Linked DNA regions of Homo sapiens: region 2 is linked to region 1. Evidence: fine-mapped expression QTL. Tissue or cell type: whole blood. Region 1 holds a variant in brackets; the other region holds the start of a gene. All regions are shown on one strand. Distances are from middle to middle.

Region 1 (8,109 bases):
TGCTATTAAAGTATATTTCCATATGTAATCTCATTTTATCCTAACAACTATTTGGTGACATAAATGAGACAGGTATTTCTGGACCTAATAGCTGAGGAATCTCAGGTTCACAGGACTGCTAAGCAGTAGAGGGATGTCTAACATTCATTCTGATTCCAAGGTCTGATTTTTCTAGATTGAAGTTATTTGTTTAGTTTTGAAGGTGATTAAAAGACATTTAAAAAGAAAAGCAATTAGCTTTGATTTCAGTAAAGGTTATGGGTCTTGTAAAAGGTCAAAATCACTTTCTGTGGTTGAATGAGATGAAAAGAGGTTGAATGAAGTAACAAAGATAAGAACTGGTGCTACAGAAATAATGAGTCGTTATCAAAACACCTCAGTGTCTCGGGGAAGAGCGAAAGAAGCACTTTGGAATAACCAAGAGAAAGAATTAATCAATCTGATTTAAAACTGAATAATACCTTCTTTATTTTTCAGTGTTAGCACTGAGCTTTTGCTGAAAATTCACTTTGCTCTAAAATGGCCTAATTTTTCCTTTTAATTTGCATTTCCTTCCTGCCCAGATGCGACTGGCAGCAGCCCAGTGGTAGTTCCACTAAAGCAACTGTGCTACAGCACCTCAATTTGGATCTCAGAGCTGTCCTTTTACATTTGCTTCTTTGCATAATTTGTCAAACTTTGTAAGTTGCACAGCAAAATTCTGCCAATAAAGAACAGGAAGTTTGGGTCATCCTTCTGGGTTTACTGTTTTATATTTGTTTTTTCAGCAACTGGAGTCAAGCTCTGGTGAAAGTATTAACACATTAGCAGTTTGGAATTGCGCTCAAGGCTTCTGTTCAATGAATATGAAAAAACTGAGCAACAAGGAGACTTGGGCACATTATTTATACATTTGGTGAGCTCATTCACTCGCCCAGGGAAATCAGGCAGCACAGCCGCCAGCCCAAGGTTAATTTTGTTTTCTTCTCAGCCAGGAACAGGGTGTGCTATTACACAGAGAGAAATGAGGACTTTTTAATTGGCAAAGAGGAACTTCTGCTGCATAAAGAGGTATTCCAATCACTGGAGGTCAACAGAAATTCTTTCAGATTTTAAAATCTTGCTGTGTTCAAAGTTTAATGCAAAATCCTTCAAATTGCTAGTATTCAAAAACCCTGCATTAACTGTTTAGAAACAGAAGAGGGCACCTCATCATTCCTTATGCCAAATTTATTTATTTATTTTTTTAAGCGTGAACAGGAAACTGGCTTGCGAATGAAAATGAAAAACCACTTCCTTTTCCTAATGAATGAATGAAAAGATTCTGTTAATATTTTTAAAAGCTTAACTATGAGTAGAAAAGCTGTATTCACTTTCTAGTTTCAAGAGACCTCAGAGTTTAAGTTGGAGACTAGCCATAAAAAGTTTAATTCTATTATAAAGTGGCTGTCAAATACAATGCATTTAGATTTTAAACCAAGAGCCGCCTGGATATCCTTCTTTTCTATTGGCTAGGTAACCAGTTAATTAGGGTAACTCCTCCTTTCTTCTTCTCCTCATGTTTGAATCCCAGTTTTTCTCAGAATTAAATCTTTCTAAGCATCAGTGAATCTTTTAAATTTTATGCAAAATGTGTTTGTGTATTTTTCTAGAGGAAGTTTGGAGTTTTAATCAAATTATCTACCCTTTCCTGGGTTAAAACTCCAGGAAGTTTCCATGTTTAATTCTACCTTATGCTAATTGAGATTTTACTCTATATTCTGTCATAATAAATACTATTAGAATAAAAACCTTAGGACTTTTCTAATAATTTAAACCATAACTGTTATGGAATGTAGCAACAAACCTTTTGATTGTCTTTGATATTCTTTGTATTAAGTTTTAGACAGAGTCAAAAGGAAACTTTTCAGTCTAACCTAATCACTTTAATTACTGGTCCTAGAGGGTAGCACTGATTTGTCCTGGGTTACACGAGCAGTGAGCATGAGAATTCAGAAGTAATAGACCGGTCTTTTACCTTTACATTCTTTTAGTCTATATTCTTTTCTCTGAGTCATGCTTGGTTGAAAATTTGCACTGATTCATACATTTATGGAATCCTTATATTGCTCTGCTCACACATATGAGTTGCTTTTTTTTTTTAAGAGTTGAGGGTCTCACTATGTTGCCCAGGCTGGAGTACACTGACTATTCACAGGTGAGTTCATCGCTCACTGCAGCCTTGAACTCTTGGTTTGAAGTGAGCCTCCCTCCTTAGCCTCCTGAATAGCTGAGACTATAAGCACATGCCACCATACCTGGCTTCTGTGTTGTTTTGTGTTTTATACTTTGGTAGATAGTTTTATTCTCTAAGTGAACAGTTTAAAAGCAGCAAAATGCATGTTGTTTCTTTTCCAAGTTGTCTTTGTATGTAAGTTCCCCTGATAAGCATTATGTCTTGTTCACGTCTCCAGGTCTCTTCTTCAGCCCTTGGACACAGTGTCATCCCTATTGGAGTCAATAAAGGTATGGCATGACATATGTATTCTGGGGATAGACTATTTTCACAAAGGACAGTTGTCAATTTCATTAACACTGTACCATACAGGAGTGTTTCTAGGGGGCAGTTGCTTTCTTATAATAATAATAGCAAACATGTATATAGTGTTTACTACTTACAAGACTGGGAAACACACAAACCAACAGACTGTTCTGTCCTACTATACTCTCAGCACAGAATATTTTTGTGGCCAGATGTGTACGGGTCTTTACACATATTTCAAGCAGCTCTCCAGCAGATATCAACTGGGTCTTCCACAATTCAATTCGATTTTGACACTGTCTACCTGAATAGCCCTTACAAGTTGAAGGCTCAGTCCCATACGACTGCTCTCATTTCAGACGCCAATCTCAAGTCTGGGCCCCCCATATTTCTGACTGACCAGCAATAAATTGGAGGTTCCCATGACCCCCTCTCAGGTTCAGTAATTTGCTAGAATGGCTCACAGAACTCAGGGAAACACTTTGCTTACAATTACCCATTTATTATAAAGGGCAGCACTCAAGGACAGCCAGATGGAAGAGATGCACAGGCTGAGTAGAGACGTGAGGGGCATCCCATCCTCCCAGCTCCTCTACACATTCAGCAACTGTGAAGCTTGTCAAATCTTGTTCGACAGCTTTGGAGAGCTTAATCTCTAGACCCCACTCCATTTCCTGGAGGTTGGTCAACAAGGCTGAAAGTTCCAACCCTCTAATCCCTTAATCACTTGGTCTTTCTGGGGACTGGCCCCATCCTGAGGTTATCTAGGGTTATCTAACTCACCTCATTAGCATGAACTCACGTGTTATTATAAAGGGGATCATTATGAATAATGAAAGACGTTCCTATCACTCAGGACTTCCAAAAATTTCAGAAGCCCTGCAACAAAAACTAGGAACAAAGACCAAATATATTTCTTATTATATCACACAAGCACTATTCTGGGCACTTAATTTCACTCTCAAACGACCCTATAATGTGGATACTATTATTATCTGCCTTTTATAGATAGAACAATAGAATCTCAGAGACATTAAGTAATTTACCAAAGATCACAAAATCCGTAGGTAGTGTAGGAGTGAAGGGAACGCTTCATCTCTGTCCACTGAGGATTTGCTGAAAATGAGCTGATAAAAGGCAGATTAATAGAAGAAAAAGGCATATAAAATGTATTCAACATGCATAAACACAGAAGCTACACACAAAATATGAGACTTAAGGAGGAGTCAGATGTTTGATTTTTAAATGTTGTCTTCATAGAGGAGAGATGTATGGACATAGAAGGCAGACATTATTTTGTAAATGATTCTCTTTGGAAGCTGGATGACAAGGTTCCAGGACGGAGAGGGGCAGAACTTCACAAGAACAAAGGTTGTCTTATTATGAAGATAAAGTCCCCAGGTAGTCTCTCAGAGCTGTCCTCAAAATAATATATGAAAAGTCTGTCTGGTTGTAATCATGACCCCGTCTCTTCTCCAGTGGTTAATCTTTCCTGGTTATTTGATGAGATTCCTAGGTAAGAGGTCTTAAGAAAATTGCATTGTCTTAAGAAGGAAAATTTGTTAGTCAGATAAAGAAATTCCAAAGAGGGTCCCTCTTAGTTCTTTGGGAAAGAGGATCAGAGGCCTAAGGAGGCAGGGGTCAGAGGGAGGGGGCTGGAGGTAGAAGGTTAGAGAGAACTTAAGGCTGCTTCTCCCGGCCAGCATGTCAAACCACCATATTTTGGGGCATCGCTTTTTGAACCCTAACAGTGGCAAAGTGAGGATTTGAACTTGAATAATCTGACTCTAGAAGAATCTGAGCACCTCCCCACTATAGTAGGTAATCAATTGACCTTTGGCCAGCTTCTTGATCATCTCTGGACTAGGCCAATCTGATAAGCAAGAACCTTGCAGTCTTGAATTATTTTTATATCAAGAGATTATTCGGTTCTAATCTAAGGATGAAAACAGACACAACAAACTCAAATGCCTAT[G/A]GGGGTACCGGCAAGTAGTGTTAATGAGTACAGAAGACTGGGTGAAGGATAATCAAAAGGATAATCTTAGTTTCTACTTTTCCTTTCAATTTTTAATTCAAAATGTATTTAACATAAAGACATTTTTACAGAAAAATATTTTCCTACCACAAAAAGAAAAATAATACAAATGAAATAATTGATGATAGCTGACATTCATCGTCAGCATTAGGAAGACAATAGAGGCAGGGGGACTGTAAAATATTGGAAATTACTTGCACTGTCTGAAAAGAAAAGTCATTATGAACTATCACCAGATTCTTTCTCAAGAAAAGGCAGGTACTCATATTTTTGTGTAAAATATGTAGATTTTGTCAGCTCAGTGTTTTAAAAGGTACAATGAGAGCTAAATAAAGCCTATTTTTCAGCCAGAGGTTACTGGTTTGTAGCCTCTGGAAGAAAGGGTATCTATCTTGTAATTGTGTTCGTGGGCATGTGCAGGTGAAAGAATAGATGGGAAAATAGATAGAGTTATTTTGTACCACAATAGCCTGAAGTCAATAGTGAAAGATTACATTTATCATCCTTTAACTGGATTGTATTATAAGTAGCAGTGGTTTTCAAGTCAGAGAAGTAAAAGGTCTGGAAACTGATAATAATGGGCTTATAGATTTATAAAGTAAAAAAAGAACTTCCTAAATATTTAAAATGAATTGATATAATCTATGGACAATCATAATAGGTGAGCCTTTTTCTCTGTGTGTACAGGGTAATCTTCAATTGTAGCAATTTGCATCTTGATGGATGGGTTATTTTATCTAGAATTTTGAACTCTTCCTTTATTCTGTAAAAATACAGGTTTAGGCAATTCTACTTTTCTCTTTTACTATGAGACTTTGAGAAAATGTAGACAACAAATATGCTTAAAGGGAAGAAGAAACTAATTTGTTGTAAATTTCTGCTCCATGTAGTCCCATCCTACCTGTGTAGAATGAACATTTCTGGAGACTTCCCTGCCTCTCTCCTTTCACTGATGACAGTCCAGCTGCAAGTTGCAATGGGGCAATGGCTCTTTTTTAGTTAGTGTCTAGAAATTGGGACTTTCAGAATGGTAGAGTGAAGAATATAGCAAATCCTCTTCCTCTCAAAATAATAATAACACTAAACAAGACTCTAAAAATCAACCACTTGAGAAATCTCAGAATTGACCAAGGACATTCAGAAAATTGATTAGTGTTTATTTAAGAAGATCTACTAAACTCTGGGTACAAACAATGAGAGTCTGTGCTGTATTAACCTGGGCTGCTTCCCTTCTACCTCCCACAGTCCCATCATGTGATAGCTTGGACAGAATAGGGCAATTCCTACTCAGCTAAGATGAATTTAGCTGCTGGCGGGGGCTGACTTGGTTTGGAGAGGGGAGCAGAAAACCCCACACCCTCGGGTGTTTGTTATCACATATGGTTGGCAAACAAATGTTGCAGCTAGCCCAACATTATGATCCTGGTTTTGGTAAGAAGCAGAATACCAGCAAGAAGTCAGCAAACCAGTGAGAAATTTAACAGAGAGATAGCCATAGTGGGACTTGGTAAACTCTTACTTATCCATGATGATTTGGAAGGCTGCCCAAGGCTGTGCACATTCTCAGGAGTTATCCACAAATCCTTGGCTGAACATGAGGGCTTCAGCCAGAAAGGTCCAGGGGGAAGTAAAAGCTGGAATAGGCTTGTAAACAATGTGCTTGGTATACTGGGTTGAATATTGTCCCCTGCAAAGATAAGTTCAGGTCCTAACCCCTGGTACCAGTGAATGTTACCTTATTTGGAAATAGAGTCTTTGCAGTTGTAATTAAGATTTTTGAGATAAGTTCATTCTAAATCACCCTAAATCCAATGACTGTTGTCCTCATAGGAGAACGGAAAGAGAGATTCAAGACACACAAAGAGGATAAACATGGAGTTGAAGGCCATGTGAAGATGGAAGCAGAGACTGGAATGATGCATCACCATCAAGAATTGCTGGCACCCACAAGAAGCTAGGAGAGAGGCGTGGGACAGATTCTCCCTCTAAACCTCCAGAAGAAACCAACTCTGCTGACACTGTGATTTCAGACTTCTGGTCCTCACAACTGTGAGAGAATTCATTTCTGTTGCTATAAGCCACCAAATTTGTGGTAACTTGTTCTGCAGCCTTAGGAAATTAACACATTTGGTGTGTTAATTAGGTTGATAATTAGGTCAACTTCCCATAAGTGAAAGCCTGTGGGAATGTTGGGCTAAGAGACCTATTTCTGATTTCTGGCTCCACAACTTATTAGTTTGTGGTCATAAACATTTAACCTCTGTGAACCTCAGTTTTCTTATCTGTAGAATGGGCTTCCTTGAAGGAGCCTTCTCCTGAATCCAGTCTGTAAAAAACTTTTGTTCTCTAGGCAAACTTTCCCTTTATCTCTACACTTAGGCCCTGTGTTAATTATTTTTGCTTATCTTTGATTCTATCAGACTGAACAAATTCTCTGAGGGCTGAGATTATATGATGTTTACCTTAATGGTAATGATACCTATAACACAGCAGGTATCCTCAATCCATGCTTATATGGTTGTTTGGAGGAGTAAGTCTGGTACTTGGTAGCAATGGTTATCTATGATAATTATTTATGACTGTTTTTAAGATTTGTAGTCTTCTTTTTCATTTTTAGTCACACATCTGTACATCCCTCAGGGAAAAGGCAGAATTTAGACTGTTTTTTTGAGAAACATGTATACTTAAGCTCGTGGAGAGGTTCAAGGAAAATGCTGTAGGTGAAGGATACAACAGGAAATGAGCGTGGTCTGCTCACAGGATGCTAGGAGCCTATCTGCATAGAGGGGAAGCTTCATTCCTGCATAAAAAGATGTATTCTTAGGTATTCTTAGCTGTATTGTAAGTTCCCTTTCCCTTAAAGCATGGTATGCAAACTCTATAGTATAGGATCCACATTTTTGCACGTGTTTCCTTTTTGTTAAACTTATTTGTTTATATACATGACCTCAACATGTTTGTGGCCTAGGGTCATGTGTGGTGAAACTAAATGGGATCACAGATCTCAGAACTATGGCCAGACCAGCTGTCCGAATCTGGGATTATCTCCATCTATAAATAGTGACTGGGCACAAAATCAACTAGCAAAATTAAGGGTTATAGGGCTTGGGTATTTGGGGAAAAAAAGAAAGGAAAGCATGCCAAGAAATCCAAGTGTTAGAAATTAACCCTCCAGGAACAAAAGCAGTGGAAAGCTATAGGCAACCGCAATTGACAGCAATAAATCTCGTCAGGAATGGAAATGTATGAATTGGTAAAAAGGAAAATATAAGGTGTTTTGAGATGCTAAACTCCCTCTGTATCAGAACTGTGCTGCCTGTTTTTGAAAAAATAATTCAAAGGATTTCACTCTTTAAGGGTATTGCACATGAAAAATTGAAATCTTTATATTCATAAAACAACTGCATGAATAAAATTAGCATTTAAAAGGGAGTTCTTCACATCCCATGCTCATGGATGGGTAGAATCAATATTGTGAAAATGACCATACTGCCAAAAGCAATGTGCAAATTCAATGCAACCCCCATCAGAATACCATCATCATTCTTCACAGAATTAGAAAAAAAATTCTAAA
Region 2 (8,109 bases), 110 kb before region 1:
AGTCAATTCTACATGTATTTCTATTACCCACAAATCTCTCCTGTCTCCAAGTCATTTCTGGCTAATATCTATTCACTTCAAAATGATCTGCTTCCCCTTATTTTTCTGAGGATAACCCTAAAATTTGGGGTGGGGTTGGGTGAAGTGGGGAGGCAGGTGGCAAGAGGAAGTAGACATCAGTGCAAACACGCCTTGGCTTTGACCTCAATAGGCGATGTCTATTTTTTCTCTGCTATCAGATCAGTGCTCTGTTCATTCAGTTCTATCCTTCCCCTTTCCGACCTGTAGGCTCATCAGCCCCCTACAGCTGTCAGCTCCCTTGAATAGTCTCTAATGCCATAAATACTAAAAAAAAAAAAAAAAAAAGTTTAGGGGCATTCCTCTGGCTGAAACAGTTCAGGCTAACATCCTACTCTCTTTTGACTTATTGAGGCAAAACCCTAGACCTTGATTGCTTTTCTGATCCCCACTGGGAATAGAGCTCAGATGCCCCCAATCTCTAGATCTTCACACATGTGGGAATTGTATTATTTCTAGCTCCACAGTTTCTTTCAAAGGAATCCCAACGACTGGGTGTGTGTGGCTGGTGGGTGGGTGGGGATTTATAGGCCTTTCTTTGGGACATACACCAATATCTCTGGGGAGAGAAAATTGGTTCCCCCATCTTTGTGGCAGATTGCATTATTGTTTACAATTAACCACACAACCCCCACTCCAAAAAAATTACAATCCATGCCCATTGCCATGTGATTTGCCTATGAAAGAAGTAGACTTCTCCACTTACTTGGGGTTTGGCCATATGAAAGACCTTGGCCAATGGGATTTGAGTAGACATGTCATGAGACATTAGAGAAGCAGCTTTAAGAGGCTTCACAAGTTTCTAACAGCTTTCTGGCTCTTCCCATCTCCCTTGAGAATTGCCAAGTTCTACATAGGGGCAGCTTCTTCAGCTTGGGCACTGGATTGAGGAGACCCATGGAGCAGAACCTCAGCTGACCCAGCATGTAATACAAATAAGAAATAAACCTTTGTGGCCATCAGCCATTTTTTTTTTTTTCAACCGCAAAAGTGATGAATATATTGTTTGTGGCTTTTTTTCCTTTCACCTCATGTGCTGAAACTCATGAAGTCCAGCCAATTCTAAACTACAAACTCTGACTTATGAGACTACTGTCACTGCCATGAGCTTCAAATATCTATTACACAAGCATCAGATTTGCCTTTTCTTTCTCCCCGAGGCAGGGAAGGAAATGCCCTAGCTGTCTGAGAAGAGTATGTGAGCAGAGAACATGGAATTGTTCAGATTTTCATCCTGATGGACAAGAACACATCAAACTATCAAACATAAAACTTGAAAACTCCAAGACATTTATCCTTCCTGGACTCAAGGTATTTACAGGGCAGAGGAAATATCTCTTAAGTAATTATAATGTGGGACAACAAATAGTGTGTCATCAAGGTGTGCGGAGAAAAGTGCTGTGGGACCTCATGAAAGAAGAGGCCTGGAAGGACAGGTAGGATTTGACAATTCAAGGGGAGGGGAGAGAAAGCATTTTGTATTCAAGATGCAGACAGAGCTAAATTACAGAGGCAGGAAATGAAGGGGCATGGATGGGGGTGTGAGTGAAATGATGAGGGGAGACTGGTGGAAGGTCAGATCGGAAAGGCTCCGCAAGGCCTACTTGTGGTCCTAGATAAGGAGTGTGGACTGTGAAGTTCTAAGACTGGCTAAAGACCATATAGAAAAGGGGCTGGAGAGTGGATTTTAGCAGCATTTATTATTTTAGAAACAATATAGCCCTTTAAAATAGTGACACATAAAGTAAATGTACCTATACAGCTGGAAAAACAATTCAGGTGATGGATTACTCTCCCCAAATGGCTGGTGTACACTGTGTGTATATGTTTGTACTTCATATTCATTGTACTTATGAAGTCTTTTATGGTTTGTTGTTGTTGGTATTGGATTGGTGCATTTTTCAGCCAAAGAAACAGCCTTGATTTCCTGCAGTTGTTTCCCTACTAATAGGGCACATCTTACTATACTTAGATCTCCTTGGCATTTTAATTCGTGTTTTAAAAAATAACCACACAATAATGCAAATGTACTTAATGCCACTGAACTGTACTTTTTTTTTTTTTTTTTTTGAGACGGAGTCTCGCTCTGTCACCCAGGCTGGAGTGCAGCGGCGCGATCTCGGCTCACTGCAAGCTCCGCCTCCCGGGTTCACGCCATTCTCCTGCCTCAGCCTCCCGAGTAGCTGGGACTACAGGCGCCCACCACCACGCCTGGCTAATATTTTTGTATTTTTAGTAGAGATTGGGTTTCACCGTGTTAGCCAGGATGGTCTCGATCTCCTGACCCCGTGATCCACCCGCCTCGGCCTCCCAAAGTGTTGGGATTACAGGCGTGAGCCACCGCGCCCGGCCTGTACTCTTAAAGTAGTATATTTGTTATCGTTTGCCACACACAAAAATAATACCCCAGCAGATCTTCATACGAGTTAATTTACGCTATAAGTTTAGAGCCGGAATTTCCTCAGCTCATCACTCAGTGTTAACATTGAAGATGTCCAGGTTGGTTATGAAGGATGTGACATCCTAGCGTTGGCCACTCTTTTCCTGGTCCTTCCTGTCTTGCAGGTGAGCCTCTGGGGGTCAGGAGAAAGTCTCCTCTATCTCCTGCTCACTTTCGTGTAGGGGAGGGAAGGTGTGTGTGTGGGTGGGTGGGGGCGTTTTGTGTGAGGGAGGCCGATACTGGGCAGGCAGCCACGCTCTTCTTCCTCCATCCTGGGGCGGAAGTGGGGAGAGCAGCAGTTTAAAGGTTCTGTTGCAGCAGTTTAAAGGATCCACTCAGCCGCCTTAACCGCCAACCAGCAGGCTAAGGGAGGAACAGAATGAACAATGTTTGGATCCCAATGACTGGAGATGAAAGTTGCAAAAGCTCTGCCCAGGCTTCTACCAAGGATTAACTTTCCAGGGCATCTGCTGAACTGCTCTTCGGGGCTGTCTGCTGAGATTGGCGGCGGGACCCTCCCGCCTCTCACTCGTGCCTTTGTTCCCCACGCCGGCCTAACCCCGCGCCCCTGCGCTCGCGGCCAGGGCACCTGACCCACGCGCCGCCCGCCGGGGATGCGGGAGCCGCCACTGCTACCGCTGCCACCGCTGCCGGGCCTGCTCCGCCAAGCACATGCGCAGTGGCGACGCCGAGCCGGCGCCCTCAGTCTCCTCCTCCACCGCCTCCCGGTTCCGCAGTCACTTCCTGCAGCTGTTTCCCTGTGGGTCGGGTTGGACTGACTTTTGACAGTCAGCCTTCGGCTGCGGAGGGGGCTCGGCGGCGGCCGGCGGAGAAAGTTGCTCCGAGAAGAGGCTGGGTCGAGCTGGGCCGAGCCGGGCGCGCAGGGCGGGCGTCGCGGGCGTCCCGGGCGGACGCGGCGCGGAGACTGCCGGCGCGTCCCGGGGGTTCCGGTAAGTGCGGGCGATTGGGAGCCGCGGAGCTTTCAGGACGAGCCCCTGGAGCGCCGGGGACTAGCGGTTCCTTTCCGATGCTCTTTCCATCTGCCCTCCACGTGACAGGGCTTGCGCTGCTTCTATTTATCAGTTTGCTTGTTTCAGGCATTTCACGTGGACCAGGTGGATCATCTGTGCGTGCAGCTGCCTTGGCCCTCTCAGTTGCCCCCGCCCCGTGGGAGTCGGGGGATTCCATCCTTCGTGATGGCATCCATACCGGGTTGAGGTGCGTGTGTGGGTTCGTGTGTATGCATGCACATCTTAGGAATGTAAGGTGGATGTGGGCGACGCTGAACTGTCTGTAGCTTTGATTCAAATCTGTAAACAGTTCTCTAGGATTAGGAACCGTCACAGCGGAGACTGAAAAACATTCGCCAATTCACCAAGGCCTCTTCCCCAGTTTTCTGCGTTCTTTTGAGCCTTCTTTATAGGATACACCTTGCCTCAAGTGATTATTATTATTATTTTTTTTAACTTTTCTCCCTCTCATTCCTTCTTGCTGCGTTCTGATGACCTCTGAGTAATGCTCGCTGCCTTTCCCTCATTTCCAGAATTCCCAATTACAGACTTACCTAGTTTGCTGAGGTGCTCCTAACCTGTTCCTTTATTCTATTCTCTTTCCTCTGTAGATTTCTCCAAATGAGACAAGAGATTGTCTTTAACACAGTATGTGAAGAGTAGGCCCCAGTCCAATCATTAAAACTAAGTATGCTATGACAATTAATTTTCTTTAAACAGGGTACCTTGTGAAGCTTTGATTTTCTTTAATGTCGTCTTAGCTCCTTTCCAAACCAGGACATTAACCAGCATAAATCCTTCATTTATGCCATCGCAAGCATCAAAGTGACTGGTTTTTAAGATTTGAAGAATATTTATGCCAGTCTTCAAATTAGTCCCTTTTAAACCAATGCAACAGTTGAACAGATCTGAGTTGCATGTTTTGGGTCTCTGTATTCCATCATTCATGCATTCACTGAAGACTTGGTTTTATTCATTTTAAGATTTATATTTTATACTAATTTTTGTTTGCAAATGTACTAATATTTGATGCAATTGTCATACATAGATTTTTTTGAGGAGTCGACATTGTGTTGATTGTTAAATATAACAAGAAATAAATTTGGGATATCAAGCTACTCTTTAAAAATTGTAAAGATCAAATGTGATAATGGGTAAATCTGTGTTTGGCAAGAATTTTTTCTTTAAATCAGGTAACTGTCACCTCTGGTAGGAGGCCTTTTGTGCCTCTGTTCTTTGAGAAGGATCTTTATTTTGAGGGAAACCTGTAGATAACACTGGGGGAGACACATGCTAGAATTTCCTCAAGTGAAAGTGAGCTTTCATAAAACAAGTCCAGACATGCCTAGGCAATTGGTAGCATTTGATTTTCTGTTTATATTGCTGATTTCCTTTATCCAGAGGTTTTGACACCCCCCCCCACCTTTTCACTAATGAACTAGCAGAATGTTTGTGGCAATTTGACATCAGTAGCTTTTCAACATTATGAATTATTATTATTAGGTAGTTAAACTTTTTAAAAGCTGTTCTTTGTCTACTTAGTTCCGTTTTCTAAAATGACCATATCTGTCTTTGCTTTCTGGACTATCTTTGCTTGATTCAATTAAGAGAAATAATACCATTACAGAGAACCTGACTTTTTAAATGTTAAAACTCTATATTGCTTTTCTTTTATGTTCCCAGAGATATGGGCAGTACACTTCTGCTTAAAAATTAAATAATATTATCATTTTTCTAAATTTTGTGATTAATGAGAAGTATTGTTAAATTCTATGACTAATACTTATGCACTTTGTCCTTAACTACATTATTTTCCCATCACGCTGATTTCCTTTGTTGCCTCCCCACCCCAAATTTCGTCTGAAAGTTGTTACTTGATTTTCAGGTGCTGTGTAGTTATCAAATATGGTAAAATAGACTTTAACTTTTCAAAATTTACTTGATTCATTTTAGTAATTCTATTATTGCCATAATGTACACATTTCCATTGCAGATGGAAAATTTCAGCAGCTTAAAATAGCCATATTCTATTGACCAAGAGAAGAGGTTTTAATAATACTGTATTGAGAGAGTGGAGGGAATTGTGGATTTTGAAATAAGGATTCTAATTTGGGTTAATTAGAATCTTGGGAACTCAAAGGGTGTACTGTGGTTCATTTTGAGACACTCAGGGTTAGACGGCGCCATCTGGGGGGGAGGCAGGAGACATTATGGATAAAGATTGAAGAGGGAGAGGAACATTTTGGGTCTTTTCTGAGGGAATTATAATAGAGACTATCAGTTATTTGTTAAGAAGGAGGAGGGAAATAGCCTCAAGATTGAGGAACTGGAATTATACTGTGGCTTATGGTGGTGTGATCCATTACTCCATTGGACATTTCCTTGATACCTTATTTTGTGTAGGTAATTTACCTAGAGAAGGAGGAAAAATTTGGGTTTTACAGGGGCTGATGAATATAATCTAAGGCTGTATGAGGCAGGGCTGTAAACTCAAGAGCTCACAGAGAACAGGCAAGTAACAAGTACAGGCAGCAGCTGAGTGGGGACTGAGGTGTCCCAGAGAAGGCAGGCCTCGCTAGAGGGCACAGTGCCTCTGAGCACTAACTAGCTAATTGCGTCCCATATAGGAATGTGGGCCAAGTGATGCCAGATCATCCTTTTTCAAGAGAAGCCATGAATCTCTTGATTTTTAAATGCTAACAACTAATTCGACTTAAAAAAATGAAAACAAAACTGTATATTCCAAACAGCACATCTGTGGCTGTATGTGGCCCACAGGCTGTTTGCCACCTCTGCTATACATTTGCTCAACTACTTAAATATTGCTAGTTGATCAGAAGGAACATATTTTATTTATTTCTGTCATACTTTAGGCTACTCCTAGAGTTCCCTGAAATTTTAGCTAGTTCTATAAGTGCTTTAAGAATTCTGCAAGATGATATTCTTTTATACACTCTTTTTGATATTGGTTGGTTGGAAGATATGTTTGCTAAGATTTTTAGCTGGTGGTCTTTTTTTTTTTTGAGTCACAGTCTTGCTCTGTCACCCAGGCTGGAGTGCAATGGCACGATCTCGGCTCACGACCACCTCTGCCTCCCCGGTTCAAGCGATTCTCCTGCCTCAGCCTCCTGAGTAGCTGGGATTACAGGCACTCGCCACCACACCTGGCTAATTTTTGTATTTTTAGTAGAGACGGGGTTTCACCATGTTGTCTTGAACAGGCTGGTCTCGAACTCCTGACCTCAGGTGATCTGCCCACCTTGGCCTCCCAAAATGCTGGGATTACAGGCGTGAGCCACCACACCTGGACAGCTCGTGGTGTTTTTGTCTGTGCATGATTATCATTAAGAGTGTTTAAGTGTAAGTGTGCCTGAGGGAAGGGGTCTGGACTAGGTGACATTTGATGTCCATTTCAGCCATGTGACTTTTAGATTTAGCCGTGGATGCAATGCTGTTAATGTTCACGGGCCAAAGGGATAGCAGTTGGAACTGTGCCAAGCAAAATAAAGCCAAATCTATAAAGCCATTCTCAGTGGAAGAGCACCGTGTTAACATGAATTAACAGGCAGGGGAAGTCTGCTAAATGAGGCCAAAGGAAAGAAGTCCCAAAGATGGGTTTGGAGAAGTAGAAGAAAGGGTCAGATTATGTTGTCATTTACATGTTATCTTGCTGAAGTCTGATTTTCAAGTGAGTTTTTTTTTCTGTTTTTTTGCTGTTGATTCAGATTTGAAGACCTTGCTTCTCATCACCCACTGGATTATGCCCCAGGCTTCCCTACCCAATGATCCTCTTGCAACACGCCGTGCTTCCTCCACCTAAGCAGCCCTCACCCTCGCCTCCTATGTCAGTGGCCACCAGGTCTACAGGAACCTTGCAGCTTCCACCACAGAAGCCTTTTGGGCAGGAGGCTTCCTTGCCTCTTGCAGGGGAAGAAGAGTTATCGAAGGGAGGGGAGCAAGACTGTGCCCTGGAGGAGCTATGTAAGCCCCTGTACTGCAAACTCTGCAATGTCACCTTGAACTCTGCACAGCAAGCCCAGGCTCATTATCAGGTAAAGGGAGAAAAGAAAACCAGGCATTGAGTAGGGTGAACATTTCAGGGCTCTGGCTATTTAGCAGTTGTCTCTCCAGATATGACTGTGCCTGGAATACCAAGATGGCTTAGAGAACAACTAACTATGAATTTGTTTGATTAAAAGCCTTATGTTTTTACTTTAAAAATAAGTATCACTTTTTGTAGACTGGATCTCAACCTGTTACACTAAGCTGTGTGGCATGCGATAGCTTACCAGTCTTTGTAGGCAAATGTAAATGATCTATGCTGGCATCTGAACCTGTAGTCTTAAGAAGAACAAGTATTTAAACCACTATTTACCAGCCTGGGTGACAGAGCGAGACTTTGTCTCAGACAAACAAAAAAACCCATGATGTACCGAACTCAATTCAGTGTAAAATTGTTTAGAAGCTAATATAATTTGCATCATTTCGAGGTGACCTCTGTGCATGACTCTTATGCTTTCCATTTTTGACTTCTAACTCTTATATATCCTATCACTGGTAAGGAAAACACAGGTATCTTTT

Evidence for each region. PIP is the estimated chance that this variant, and not a neighbour inherited with it, causes the effect.
Region 2: it holds the start of ZMAT3, and the variant in region 1 is fine-mapped to the expression of ZMAT3 in whole blood (INTERVAL, PIP above 0.99). The same link has a PIP of 0.9 or more in monocytes.

What each region holds. Positions count from the first base shown.
Region 1 is chr3:178,959,820-178,967,928 of GRCh38, reverse strand. LOC124906307 (a long non-coding RNA gene) reads left to right here. Exons shown (of 3, transcript XR_007096179.1): 2 at 2,433-2,484; 3 at 6,366-7,967. Among named protein-coding and RNA genes, the nearest start is that of KCNMB2-AS1, 100 kb to the right of the region's middle. The variant G/A (reference allele first, on the strand shown) is at 4,476.
Region 2 is chr3:179,066,954-179,075,062 of GRCh38, reverse strand. It overlaps ZMAT3 (zinc finger matrin-type 3), which reads left to right and starts at 3,254. Exons shown (of 6, transcript NM_022470.4): 1 at 3,254-3,468; 2 at 7,254-7,580. The coding sequence starts at 7,311. RefSeq lists silencers at 2,828-3,237, 3,378-3,527.